Homo sapiens: one gene and its partner. The protein of the gene in region 2 purifies or fractionates together with the protein of the main gene of each other region. This does not show direct contact. Each region holds a gene or a part of one and is shown on either strand. Other genes may lie near its edges.

Region 1 (7,025 bases), on a different chromosome or scaffold from region 2:
ATGAGGCACAGGGTCAGCTGCTTCAGATTCCACAGACCTATCTGGGAGTTTTTGTACCCCAGGGTTCTTTTTTCATTGGCTCCCAGATATTTATCTATACAGCCCTCATTTCCTCTGCAACACTTTCTCTTCCCCTCTTCTACCATCTAGCCTGGGAAATCACTTTCTATTCTAGGAGACTTCTTATTCGTCATGTAATCTTCTAAATCAATGCCTATTTTTTAAAAGATTCTCGGCCGGGCGCGGTGGCTCATGCCTGTAATCCCAGCATTTTGGGAGGCGGAGGTGGGTGGATCACTTGAGGCCAGGAGTTCGAAAACAGCCTTGCCAATGTGGCAAAACCCTGTCTCTACTAAAACTACAAAATGTAGCCAGGAGTGGTGGTGCATGCCTGTAATCTCAGCTACTTGGGAGGCTAAGGCACGAGAATAGCTTGAATCTGGGAGGCGGAGGTTTCAGTGAGCCGAGATCACACCACTGCATTCCAGCCTGGGTAACAGAGCGAGACTCTACCTCAAAAAAAAAAAAAGATTCTCCAAAAGATACAGGCTTTTAAAAATCCAAAGGAAGGAAGGAACTCCCGTTTCTTTGCTTTTTTTTCTCATAGCCCTTCAAAGAAGTAACAACTATAGAAAGGTGTGGCTACTGAATTTATTTTCTGGGCAGTATGGTAGGAGGAGAGTAATGTGAAGAGCTAAGGGAAAGATATTTGAGTAAAAAAAAAGTTAGGTAATATTCATGAGTTTGTCATTGATATCATATAGACATGCAAATGTTATCGCATACTGGATAGGGCTCAGAGCAGCTTCCAGGACCCACACTGATTTACACCAGCATTTCTAGGCAATTCTGTAAGTCCTGCAGCCCCTCAAGGTTTTAGAAATCCAGCTTCTGTACTGGCTCCTTAATGTCTAAGCTTCTGTTCTCTTCTCTCTGTAAGCAAGATAATAGTACCTACCTCACAGAATAGTAGCCAGAATTCAGCAACCTACCCTAGCACTCACTGTAGGCACTCAGGCAGTGATAGCTATTATTTATAATAGTACCAAGAAAAGTAATTAACAACAGGTTACTGTTCATATCAATTTTCAAGTTTTCAAACAGTCTTGATATTGGCTCTAGTATAACTCTAATTTATCAATACAATTGTGAACATTAGCACAGTTTTTCTTGTAGCAGTTCTCTAAATTCTTTTTCTACTCATCTACCTACCCTTTCATATTCCTGTCTTTTACCCTGCATAAACAAATTGTCCCTTTTTTTTTTTTTTTTTTTTTTTTCGAGGCAGAGTCTCGCTCTGTCATCCAGGCTGGATTGCAGTGGCACAGTCTCGGCTGACTGCAACATCTGCCTCCCGGGTTCAAGCGATTCGCTTACCTCAGCCTCCTGAGTAGCTGGGATTACAGGCATGTGCCACCATGCCTGGCTATTTTTTTTTTTTTTTGAGACGGAGTCTCACTCTGTCGCCCAGGCTGGAGTGCAGTGGCGTAGTCTCAGCTCACTGCAAGCTCTGCCTCCAGGGTTCATGCCATTCTCCTGCCTCAGCCTCCCAAGTAGCTGGGACTACAGGCGCCCGCCACCATGCCCGGCTGATTTTTTTTTTTTGTATTTTTAGTAGAGACAGGGTTTCACCATGTTAGCCAGGATGGTCTCGATCTCCTGACCTCATGATCCGCCCATCTTGGCCTCCCAAAGTGCTGGGATTACAGGCGTGAGCCACCGCACCCGGTCCCAGCTAATTTTTATATTTTTAGTAGAGATGGGGTCTCACCATGTTGGCCAGGCTGGTCTCTAGCTCCTGACCTCAGATGATCTGCCTGCCTTGGCCTCCCAAAGTGCTGAGATTATAGGCATGAGCCACTGCACTCAGCCAAATTGTCCCTTTTCTAATCAGCACTTCTACCCCCACACCACTGTGTTGCTATTGTAAACAATGCAGATGGTTGTTCAAGTATTCTGTGAATGCAAGCGAAACATAAGCTAACATGGAGAGATGTTTCTGGAAAGGTGTGAACAAATTGAGTCAAACCCGCATGTACTCAGAGCATGCATTACATAAAGGAAACTCGAGGTGGGCTCTCTTATAAAATGTACAGTCTTCTCATATCTGTCATATAAAGACAATTCACTTGTTTTACAGCTTCATATAGTTAAAGAAACTCATGTAATTTGTCTCAAGTGTTTAAGAAAGTCTTCATTTAATTAAAAAGAAAAGTACAGTTCATAATATAACAGAGCCAGGTCTGCCATTTCTTTGTTCATATTTCATCGTTTCGTGCCAGTCAAACTACCTGTCCTGTGACAAGTGGAATGGAGCTTGCATGTTCCCTATTAATTGATAATGGTGTTAACAAGGGTTTATTATATCTACTCTAGAAACTTTGGAAATACAGTGATTCTTAGCTATTCCCTGGCAGATCTCAATATTCTCTAAATTAGACTAACATTTTACCACAAAACTCGAATGGTAATTGCCTTCTTCCAATTTACCAAAGAACTTAAGTTGATAGTTAGAATCCTCTGTGCAGTACATGTGTGAACACATATGTGCATGTACACATGCATAAATTAGTATCAAAGACATGAACAGTTTCAACTTGTTCAGTAAATTGGGCAGTTGATGTCAGGGCACATGTAGAAGTTGAATTTTCTTAATATTCATTTGCTCTGCTGCTGCTTATACTTGCCAGCGAATAATATTAAAGGAATTCCTAAAATAGCTGTTCATTGTTTGATTAACTGCCTCTTGTTCTTGTTTTTCATTAACATTTGCTAATGCTGTTATAATATAGTGCTTTCTAACTCTTTTCATGACAGGACAGGACATATATATATGTGTGTGTGTATATATATATATGTATGTATATATAAAATATACACACACAGTTATAATGTTTATATGGGACACTGGGGTAAAGGGCTCAGGAATTTGCCCAGAGGCTGAGGCGATGAGCACACACGGACCCTCTTCAAGGTGTACCGTCGTACGCTGTGCACAGCCTGAGAAGCTGTAAGGTGCCACATCGCAGACATCATATAGTCCTGATTTCTGCTAGCAACATTGTTTCCGTGATCTTATGATCATTAATCACCAGTGTTCTGTTTCATCATCTACAAAAGAGCACTGTTACTCTCCAGCTGTTCCCCTTCCTGATGAACTTGCGAAAGTGGAGAGAAGGATATAAACTCAGAAGTGTCTTTGCTTGGTGGGTAAATTAGGTCTCCTTGCTATGTTCCTTCTGCAACCAAATAACTTTCTGCGAACACTTAATGCAGAGCTTGATACCCTGAGGGTTCAGAAGGGAAGAGACCATCAGGCAGTATGGTCTTTGCCTCATTTCTAAAAAGCTTCTGGTTATATCTGAGCTGAGCTGCTTCTAAATGCCAGGGCCTCCCTTGACAATGTTTCTTTTTTCTCACACGCTCCTTTCAAAAGGACAAGACACATTTAAAGATACAATTAAATATATTGAAGTTACAAAGCAATTTAAAGAAATTAAGCAATAAGACACACCCAAATATATGTTACAAAGGAATTTAAAGAAATTAAAGTAAATAGAACATTTTCCTCTTTTATTTGCATTGAAATAAAGTATTATTTCTTTACTCCTAGTATGTTATTGGAACTGTGATATACTTATTTAGAAAAAAAAGGTACTGAATCCTGGAATTCAAACCTAATCTTAGGTTTGAGTCCCAGAACTACCACTTATCCAATGAAATGAACAAGCATAGTTATTGTTTAAGCCTTCTCAATAAAATGGGACTGATGATACCTGAGGAGATCTCATGTATGAAAATATTTTGTCCAAAAGCAAAAGGTAAATACAATTGGTTTTTGTATTAAAAGGGCTCAATGAGCCCTCCAGTCCAGTGGCAGCTGCTTGTAGGAATTCAGACACTCAGTTGGTGAGGGCAGCTCTGGTGATGCCAAGTTGACGTGCGCCCTCCCTCTTTATTTCCTCCCTCGCCCTGCAGAGTAACCTGATCCACTACCTGGGACTGAGCCATCACCTGCTGGCACTGAATTTTATCATTGTTTCTTTTGGCAAAAAAAGCGCGTGGTCTTCTGCCCAAGTGAAGGTGACCGACACAGACTTTGATGGTGTGGAAGTCAGAGTGTTTGAAGGCCCTCCGAAGCCCGAAGAGCCACTGAAACGCAGCGTCGTTTATATCCACGGAGGAGGCTGGGCCTTGGCAAGTGCAAGTGCGTCCTGGTCACCTTCAGATGGTTTGTTGTTGTGGTTGGCCTTGGGGGAGATGCGTAACTGAGTTTGGCTTTCTTAGTGGGAAAGAAGGGGACCATTTATCTAGGTTCCCCTGGATGGTCCCAGTTACCCCTGTTGTCCCAGCAAAATTATGACTAGTGCCCCCTTTTCACTCTCAAAAGGGTCCTGGTTTGGGTGATAAATTAAATGGTTATCCTTTGTAAAGGTTTTTTGCTTGTTAGTTTGTTTGTCAATTCAGGTAGACTGTTGTAAAAATATTTCCTATGATCTAAATCACAGACTAACTTATTGTGCAGTGCTGATACAGCTTTCTGCACCAAAACAAGGTGAAGTTTCACCAGGCACGCATATGGGGAATTATCTGTGCTTCTTTTGCCAACTTGTGTTTTGAAGATATATTTCTATGAAATAGACCAGGTATTCCTTAATACACATGTTAACATTTTATCTGCTTATGAAAGCAAAGGTAAAAATATATGCAACCATTCAAAGGAAACAATCTTGCAAAGTTCAAGAATATTTTCTTTAGATTTGGATGATTTTTATGAGTAGAACACATTCAAAATGGCAGGCAGCCAAACAGAGCCGCCCAGAAGAGAACCTCCCAAGGCGGAATTCGGGGTCTTGTCTCTGCTAATAAATGATCATGGAGCTACTTCCTCATCTTCAGTCCAGAGCTTTTGGCATCCCCTTAGTTTAAAAGCAATGGCAACTTGTTTTTTTTATTTTATCATTATGTGATTTTTTTTTAAAAGCAACAAAGGTCAAAAGGTTTGACTTTTTCTAGTAATCTTATTTAATTCCATATCCGTTGTTTATTCTTTTATTCAGTGATTTTTTTTCACATTTTCAATAGCTGTTCATGAGTATGTAGGTTTGCCCGAGACCAAGGGGTTTGCTGGGCTGCAGGTCTTTCAGTGCAAAAGCTCAAACAGTTGTGGGCAAGTCTGGACCATTGGTCAGTCTAAGGTGTGCTCGGGTGTAGGGATACAAAAATGAATAAGAAGGAGTTTCTGCCTTAAAAGAGATTGAATCTGTAGCATTGGACGCTTGCCAGGAAAAACATTGTACTGGAGGACAGCAAGTATGGGTGCCAGGAATGGGATGGATTACAAGAGTCAGCCTGGCCTTTTCTGCATAATTTTGACTGATCACTTCTGCCTGAGGAAGAACTTGAGCAGGTGGAGGTAACAGGTGTCTATGTAATTCTTAAGCTTCCGATTCTAAGACTGCCTTGGAAACCCTATAAATAAGGAAATGTTTGGCTCTCAGTTGGCACAATATAGATCTTAATTTACTGAGAGTAACTAAGAATTAAATTCTTACATATTAAATTGGTTCTGTTACTGCAGACCTTTGGAATCCTCTAAGAAATGCTAAGACTTCCTAAAATTCTAGTTTTTTACGTGTTCATTTAAAGAAAATACCATATTCTTCAAATTGATCACTTTACTGAACTGCAGCAAATGAAGTGTTAAAAGAGCAAAATTGTTAAAATTATTATTTTTAGACATAAGATCTCACTCTGTCACCCAGGCCAGAGTACAGTGGCTCTATCACAGCTCATTGTAACCTCAAACTCTTGGGCTCAAGTAATCCCCCTTCCTCAGCCTCCCAAGCAACTGGGACTGCAGGCGTGCACCACTATGCCTGGCTAATTAAAAAAAATTTTTTTATAGAGGCAGCATCTGGCTATGTTGCTCAGGCTGGTCTCAAACTTCTGACCTCAAATGATCTCCTTCCTTAGCCTCCTGAAGTGCTGAGATTACAGGCATGAGCCACCACTCCCAGCCTAAAATTGCATGATTCTAAGGAAGAGACTGCTTATTTGCTGTGATTTTTTTTCCAGAAAGATGTATACATTTGAAGAGCTATAAAATCAGGATTAATTTGGTGCATTTCATATAGTCCGTTATGAAATAAATATTTAGATAGTAATATATTCAAAACTAAACTATGCATTTCCTGTTATATAGTAGTTGCATGTTATTAGAAATCAGATTTAATTTTTCATGTGTACATGTAACTCTATTATTTGTTCACATTTGCTTTTTATTATTTGTTTTTAGTATTAGCTCCAAGCCTAAAAACAATTCACACTTAGCAGAATTTATGAGTGGACAGTATTAAATGACCTGTTTTGTAATGATTGTTCCCTTTGTGTCTTTTAGAAATCAGGTATTATGATGAGCTGTGTACAGCAATGGCTGAGGAATTGAATGCTGTCATTGTTTCCATTGAGTAAGTAATTAATGCTAGTCATAGAAAATTTTTCTTATAAAGGAATTCTAGATAACAGTCTGGTTACTTTGTTTTACAAGTGATAAAGTAAAAAATAAAGGTCTCAAGTTGGCAAAGAGATATGCCCAAAGTCACACTCAGCATAATCAGAAAAATGATTTCTGATGTAACAAAATTTATTGAACTAGCTTTATAACACTTCAAATTACCTTTTCACCGTTAGTTTTGAAAACTGAAAAAAGGATTAACTAAAAACCTAGAGAAGTATGCAATCAGTTACCTGCAACATATAACTTTTTAAATCTAAAAAGTAGTAAGGATTTTAAGAGAATCTCTTCTACAGCTGAGAGTTGAAAAAGTTGCTCTCTTAGAGTCAGGTTCTATGACTTGTGCCTTGGGAACAGAAATACGTGTTCAACAAATTTTAATGGTGTGGTTAGTAGTAATAGTAGTAATATTAATATTTTGGGTTGTCTCTGTCAGTTCTGTATAAGCCACTTTTCTGGGCAACTAAGAAGAATGTGAATAATAATTATAATAATTTTGATGATAATA
Region 2 (7,971 bases):
CTCACTGCAACCTCCACCTCCCGGGTTCAAGCGATTCTCCTGCCTCAGCCTCCAAGTAGCTGAGATTACAGGTGCCCACCACCATACCCGGCTAATGTTTGTATTTTTAGTAGAGACGGGGTTTCACCGTGTTGGCCAGGCTGGTCTTGAACTCCTGACCTCACGTGATCTGCCCACCTTGACATCCCAAAGTGCTTGGATTACAGGCGTGAGCCACCGCGACAGCCTTACGTGACATTTTATACACCACTATAGGGGTAGGACACCTAGGGAGGCCAGGATATAGTCTAGTTAGTCAAGAAAAGCAATGAATCGTTTACAAAACACAGACTGGAACTTACTTTAATAGAAACTTTGGTGTCTTTGTGAGCTAGCTTGAGAGCATTGTGGAATACCTTCAGGTCCTCTTCTAAAGCCAAGGTGGCAGCAGGTAGTTTCTGTTGTTCATGCTCTATGTGCTCAGCCAGTTTCCCAGGACAGTCTATGAAAACAAGCCTTTTGCTACCTTTGAGGCCAGTCAGCAGCCGCTCATGATACTTGGTGTACTCCCTGACCCAGGAGTTACAGTTATAGATATAGACTGCGGAGACGTTGTCGTAAGCAAAGCCAGGAAAAACAACAAACCACTTAGAGAGAAAGTCTGTTTTAAAGCGATTGCTAGGCCCGGTATGGGTAAGGTCCACTACAATTTCATATGGCTTTGCATAATATGGCTTTAAAGTCAGTAAGACATGGTATATCAGCAAATCACCATTGATTTGACCAGTTTTGAACCTAAGGAAAATGACAAAAAAGACAAAGATTATTAGCAGTGTTTAAAATAAATATACAGATGCCACTAATCAATTTTATTTTATGATTCATTTTCTAGAGAGAATAATATAAAACAATTCTTCAAAGTCTGGATTCATTTTTTAAATCAGTTGTTTTTTGGACACTGAGAAATAAGGCTAAGAGAAGAGACAAATCTCCAATTCAAAAATTTTGAGCCACGACAACAATAAAAAATTTGCCCATGAGTCAAGAAAGGAAGAAAACAGTGGGAATTAGTTGGTTGCCTGCAGGGCCCACCAAACTCCTTAGGCGAATAGTCTGGTAGGAATGACCCATCTGGAGCTCTGGAGTGAGATGGTTTTAGCCAATCCATTTATCCCACCTTGATCACAGACTGATTCAGCAATGAACACATTATTCAAACCAGGACAACCAGGGCCAAAGAGGCCCAGTTCAGGTAGTTTAGCTTAAATTGTTGGGATTTGAGATATTTCTTTCCTGGTGTTTATAAACAAGGGAATACGTAGCCCTAGGAGTTGCTAGCTCATATTTTGGGATATAAAAGAAGAGCCTCCCAAAAGACTGAAGAGAAGGAGCTGAGAAATAGACAAACTGGAACCCTGGCCATATCATTTGTGTATGAGATAAAGCCTCTCCTGGGGTCAAATTTATCCCAGGACTGCTCAGTTACATAAGCCAATAAATACCATTTTTTGATTAAGCCATATTAGGTCATATGTTGCTTAAAACCAAAAGAATACTAATAAATGGGAGCAGCCACAGTGAGGACCATGAAAAAGCCCTGAAGTAATGGTACCAAAGTTTCAAATCAAAACAATCTATGTTAACTTAGGCCCAAAGTTTTCCATATGTGATGATTCTGGTGATAATACTACTAAGTAAGTTAAAATAAATCTTTACCTCAGAGGTTGGTTAATGGATATAAAAATATAATCAGGGCTGGGCACAGTGGCTCACGCCTGTATTCCCAGCACTCTGGGAGGCTGAGGCAGGTGGGTTACATAAGGCCAGGAGTTCGAGACCAGCCTGGCCAACATGGCAAAACGCTGTCTCTACTAAAAATACAAAAATCAGCCAGGCATGGTGGTACATGTCTGTAATCCCAGCTACTTGGGAGGCTGAGGCACGAGAATCACTTGGACCTGGGAGGCAGAGGCTGCAGCGAGCTGAGATTGTACCACTGCACTTCAGCCTGGGCAACAGTGAGACTGTCTTAAAAAAATAATAATAAAATAAATAATATATGTATTGTTAGAATTAGATAGAAGGAACAAGTTCTACTATTCATAGTAAGGTGACTAGTTAATAATAACATTGTATATTTCAAAACAGCTAGACGAAACAATTTCTTTTCTTTGAGGCAATGGATATCCTAATCACCCTGATTTAATCATTACACATTATATGCATGTATCAAAATATCACACATACAGGCAGGGCATGGTGGCTCACGCCTGCAATCCCAGCACTTTGGGAGGCCAAGACGGGCAGATCACCTGAGGTCAGGAGGTCAAGACTAGCCTGGCCAACAGGGTGAAACCCTGTCTCTACTAAAAATACAAAAATTAGCTGGGCGTGGTGGCACGTGCCTGTAGCCCCAGCTACTTGGGAGGCTGAGGCAGGAGAATTGCTTGAACCTGGGAGGGGAGTTTGCAGTGAGCTGAGATTGTGCCACTGCACTCCAGCCTGGGCGATAGAGCGAGATTCCAACAAAAACAAAAACAAAAAAAACCAAAAAAATCACACATACTCCATTAATATGTACAAATTATCATGTATCAATAAAAAACTTCACCTCAGAATTTTTAATCTTGTTGGGAGAAAATAAGATAAAAATATGACAAGTCAAATGATTTTAAAACAACACAAATATTTCAAGATAGAAGATATGAGGTAGAAAGTAATCACTTATCAAAGGAAATGCAGAGAAAATACTGTTATTAAGACAAAGGAGAGAGAGAGAGAGATTAACACAAACTGGGCAGTCAGTGAAAGCTACATAGAAGATACAGTGGCTGAATCAGGTAAGGAGGAATGCAGACTCAGCAAGAGGACTGGGCAGGCCTTATGGAGAAAGGCAAAAAGGAAAAGAAACAGGTAACTAGATGTGTTGAAGAGACAGCTAGTCTAGCCAGAATGGAGGATTCAGGTAGAGAAGTTTTGAGAGATAAAGCTGGGAAAATACAGAATAGTCAAATTGTGGAGAGACCATAACTGCCCAACCAAAGGGCTTAGGTTTTCTACTAGGGGCTCACCATTTCTCAGCATATGTTCTGTGGACTACTGGCGTCAGAATCAACTGTGGTGCTTGATAAAAATGCAGTTTCCTGGTCCCAACCTGGACCTACTAAATATGGATCTATGTAGTGGGGCCTGGAAATTTTTATCTTTTTTTTTTTTCCCTTAACTCAGGCTGGACTGCAGTGGCACGGTCACAGCTCACTGTAGCCTTGACCTCCCCAGGCTCAGGTGATCCTCCCACCTCAGCCTCCTGAGTAGCTGGGACTACAGATAAGCGCCACCATGCCCGGCTAGTTTTTTGTTTTTGTTTTTTTGTATTTTTTGTAGAGACAGGATTTTGCCATGCTGCCCAGGCTGGTCTCGAATTTCTGTGGCTCAAGTAATCCTCCCGCCTCAGCCTCCCAAAGTGCTGAGATTACAGGTGTGAGCCACCATGTCCTGCTTTTATAATTTTTAAACAATCTTCTCATCTGATGTTTATGTACACAAACATTTCTGAATCATTGTTGTATGTATTAGGGAACTGTTCAACCGGTTTTATTTTCCCTTAAAGAAAGGGTGGTATGACCAAAGACAGTGATGTATACAAGATATAAGAAGGATTCAGGGCTACCGAAAAGGCACTGTAGAGTCTAGGTATGACCTGATAAGGATCTAAAATAGTACTGTTGACAGTAAAAACAGGGAAAAAGAAACTGATCCAACAATATGAAGGAAGGACCAACATGATTCAAAGTCTGATCAGGACTGAGAGGACTTAAATTAAAATGATGTGTTGTATACTAAGCCTCTGATATTAGAATGTTGCTATCATGAACAGAAACAAGAAGACTGTCACAGGCAGCCTCCTTTAAAGAAAAAATAAAGTTCTTTTTATTTCATTAATTTAATTAATTTTTAAGAGATGGAGTCTTGCTATGTTACCCAGGCTGGATTTGAACTCCTGGGCTCCACCAGTGATCCTCCTACCTCAACCTACCTAGTAGCTGGGATTACAGATATGTGCTGCCATATCCAGTTCTTTTTTTTTTTTTTTTTTTTTTTTTTTTTTTTTTTGAGACAGAGTCTTACTCTGTCTTCCTGGCTGGAGTGCAGTGGCATGATCTTAGCTCATGCAGCCAAGATCTCATGATCTCTGCAGCCTCCACGTCCCGGGTTCAAGCTATTCTCCTGTCTCAGCCTCCCAAGTAGGTGGGACTACAGGTGCATGCTACCCTGCCTGGTTAATTTTTATATTTTTAGTAGAGACAGGTTTTCTCTATGTTGGCCAGGCTGGTCTTGAACTCCTGGCCTCAAGTGATCTGCCTGCGTCAACCCTCCCAACGTGCTGGGATTACAGGTGTGAGCCACCGTGTTCAGCCCATACCTAGTTCTTAAAGTCTGTTTCAGTCATGTTAAACTTGAGGTGATGACAGGATGTTTGACAGTTGTGTGTGTGTGTGTGTGTGTGTGTGTGTGTGTGTATACACACACTACACCACACGAAAGCATTTTCTGTCCCATATAATCTAAGTTTACTAGATATTTTCTCAAATAATTGCTGCAGTTCCACAATTGTTACATTATCTGATCAGTATCCCATGGACTCCAAACTCACATTTTCAAATCAGTCTGTAGATTTCAAATAAGTCTTTTAGAGAAGATTTGAAATGGAAGATACCATTTCAAAACCTCTTTTGAATGACACTAAAGCATGTAGCAGGCCTATAGAATGAGCATACTGTCAAAAGGCATTAAGTGGAAAACCCTCCCTGCTCTGGAGGCGGGGATTGGTTCTACAAAGCCTCCTGTCATGCCAGTGGCCAACTAGAGAAGTTGGAGCTTTTTCGTTGTTTTTTTTTTTTTCCCTCCTGTGACATGTGCTTTAGTTGCAGTGGAAAGGAAATGTGTCATCTGTGGTTTGGTTTTAAAAGTGGAAAACTAGCTGCACATATCCTTTTTTACTGCAGATTTACTTTAAGGCTCATATTCTCCAAGTCTATTCTGCTTTAAAAAGAAGACAAGAAAAGAAGTGGTTTATCAAAATCACGTTATAATCAGATTTTGACCAAGCATTTTGTAAGGTAGGTCATATATATACGGCTTTTCTTATGCCTTTTCACTTCTAACGTCTGACAGATTAGTGTTCGAGGAAATGCTATCAAAGTGTGTAAGAATCTCACTAACAAACTAGAATTGTGACTGAAAATGTATACTTTTTTTTTCTGTCCTGTTACATAAATTTTAAGTTAGAAATGAAAAAATTTGCCATCGCCATGGAGTTTTAAATTAGGATTACGAAGGATCTAAGTTTGGTTTCCTCAAGTAAACTGGAAATGTTTTGTTATTTTTCAAAAGTTAAAAAATAAATTTCTCATTACTAATGCTTGGACATTACAAATTCTACTGAAAATAAATTCTACTGAAAATGATCAGATATAAGAAAACTTCTGATAACACAACCTGGCCTCCAAGGCATAAACTGGAGTAAAAACAGTCCTCAATTCTCAGGCATTTGTAAGGGCAAGAGAAAGTCTCATTTTGTCATACAGTTTGTTTATTTGGGCACTGCAGTACATCTGGCTGAAGACAATCAACAGCAGGCCTATTATCTGTTCCGTGGTAAGCACTGTTAAAATGTGTACCAATACTATGATGTATACTACACTGTTAATGAACTAATGTGAAAAGAATAATCTACTTTAAATCATTCTAGCATCTAATACAGAAGTCCAGTCTAGTATAAAAAGATGGAAATTACTTGCTAATCCAATTTCAAGTATTTCTTTTTGTGGAAGAATCATGAAATATCCAAAGATTTATGTCACTAAACTTAAAAATTAAAGCTGAACACTATTATACAAAAGCCAGTGACTTGGGCCTTTAATTGTCTACTAAAGGTCATAATCTAAAAAGTAATCTTAATCCTGGAATATTTAATAGTTTTTCCTCCCTACTATTAATATGAAATATAGTCTCCAGTTAGCATTGTTTATTACATGCTACTTTTGTTTGCATAACTCAACGTATCACATTTCTTATTTTCAATTTCTGTATTTTAATAGTATACAAATGTCAGCCAATGACATATAACAACCATTTCTTATAAAACCTTGATGTTCAAAAGCCTGACTAGCAGTGGCATCCATGTTGCTTAGGAGTTGGTTTGGAAACAAAGACTTTCAGGCCCTACCTATACTAGCTAGGTAAGAATCTGCCTTTTTTTTTTTTTTTTAAATAAAAGGACTCCTAAGTACATTTGAGAAGAATTTCTATAGCATACGTAGGGTTCTTAACCAGGCAATTTCATTTAGTAAATCTCAGGAGAACAATATAGTTTTGCTTTTAGTTCATTCAAATAAATGCTAACAATAAAATACTCCTTTCAAAAGTAGCTCAAGACAAACTGGTATATTATTATAAGATACCTTAATAATGATTATAAATCTTTCCTGCTGGGTTAGCAGTACATGGAACTGTTAAATTCTAAGATATGCCATTTCTATTTAAATCAATCATTTGGTAGATTTAAAAAATGTATAATATAACTTGTCTCCTTTTTGTACTAGTTTCCAGCAAGCTCAGGGCCAAAGCGGAAATTCAACATTTTCAATTATCTGTTGAGATGCTTATAACCTGCCACTTCATCCCAAATCATCAAGATCCTGATGCTCTATTTCTATTTTATTACACATTTTTTTTTACAATTATGTCAAAATCAGAAAAAATGCTAGGTATAAATGATGCTTTAAAAGAAAACCCAGCAACTTTTGTTGAACTTTTAAGTCTACTCAGAGGAAATTTGCTGTTTTTTTTTTTTTTTCTTCAGATTTTTAGGTTGAGAAAACTGGTATGCCTTTGCCTTCAGAAAGACACAGTCAGTCCAGGGAAATATAAATGAAAAGAGACAACCACCACAGTAAAATTGCGTTCACAAATACACTTACAAATGTATTTCTAAGTACCAGCTTTATTCTAAGCTTCAAGATGAACACCCAAGAAAAAAAAAGAACACCTTGAATTTCTATTTGAAGTTCAGTTTCTTTTGGTTGCTACCAAACTTCCCCTCTTTCCACCAAAAAAATTTGCATTTATTTCATACATGAAGCAAGAAGCTCAAGGCCACATTTCTTCTGTAAAGATTGGTGACAGGTTAGAGGGTGGGTAGTTTCTGTAAGAATGATCCTTAATTTTTTTTTTTTTTTAAAGAAGGAATCAGAAAAGTAAAAGCAGAACTAACTGACTCAAAGCAGAAGTCTAGCACGCTTCAAAGGAAGAAAACTATATAAAGCCATGATAGTCCACTTAAAATGATTAATATTTATTTGTAATGCTAACTTCTAGCATCTAAAAGTGTTAATAGAAATTAAAATGCTTCTTCATACATAGCTGAATAGAAAAGAAATTTAGTTGAGAAGGAATTCAGGGTAGCGAATATTAGGCATAAGCTTGTAGTTTACTTGTAACATCTCAACACTATCTTTTAACTACAATTACCAAAACTAGGATCCATTATTCTTTCACAAACTAACAAATTATATTGCTATCCCAACAGATTGCCAAGCATGCCCACGGACATGGAACACACAGGACATTACCTACATCTTGCCTTTCTGATGACAACAGTTTTTTCTTTGTCTCCTGGAACAAAAGCAAACTATACCCGTCTGTGGGCTAACAGTACTTCTTCCTGGGATTCAGTTATTCAAAACAAGACAGGCAGAAACCAAAATGAAAACATTAACACAAACCCTATAACTCCTGAAGTAGATTATAAAGGTAATTCTACAAACATGCCTGAAACATCTCACATCGTAGCTTTAACTTCTAAATCTGAACAGGAGCTTTATATACCTTCTGTCGTCAGCAACAGTCCTTCAACAGTACAGAGCATTGAAAACACAAGCAAAAGTCATGGTGAAATTTTCAAAAAGGATGTCTGTGCGGAAAACAACA

What was found. The genes of interacting proteins can lie anywhere in the genome.
Region 1: the proteins of EVI2A (region 2) and NCEH1 purify together in Homo sapiens (affinity purification with mass spectrometry; 2 studies listed by BioGRID and IntAct, with this or other methods). This does not show direct contact.

Annotation. Positions count from the first base shown.
Region 1 is NC_000003.12:172,645,068-172,652,092, reverse strand, and holds part of NCEH1 (neutral cholesterol ester hydrolase 1), read left to right. Parts: intron 1-3,978; coding exon 3,979-4,207; coding exon of another isoform or gene 4,208-4,231; intron 4,232-6,400; coding exon 6,401-6,470; intron 6,471-7,025.
Region 2 is NC_000017.11:31,318,623-31,326,593, reverse strand, and holds the start of EVI2A (protein EVI2A isoform 2 precursor), read left to right. Parts: upstream 1-4,971; 5' UTR 4,972-5,099; intron 5,100-6,080; exon of another isoform or gene 6,081-6,162; coding exon of another isoform or gene 6,163-6,221; intron 6,222-7,570; coding exon of another isoform or gene 7,571-7,580; coding exon 7,581-7,971. Other genes in the region: NF1 (neurofibromin), read right to left, coding at 342-774. UniProt on the Homo sapiens protein: May complex with itself or/and other proteins within the membrane, to function as part of a cell-surface receptor.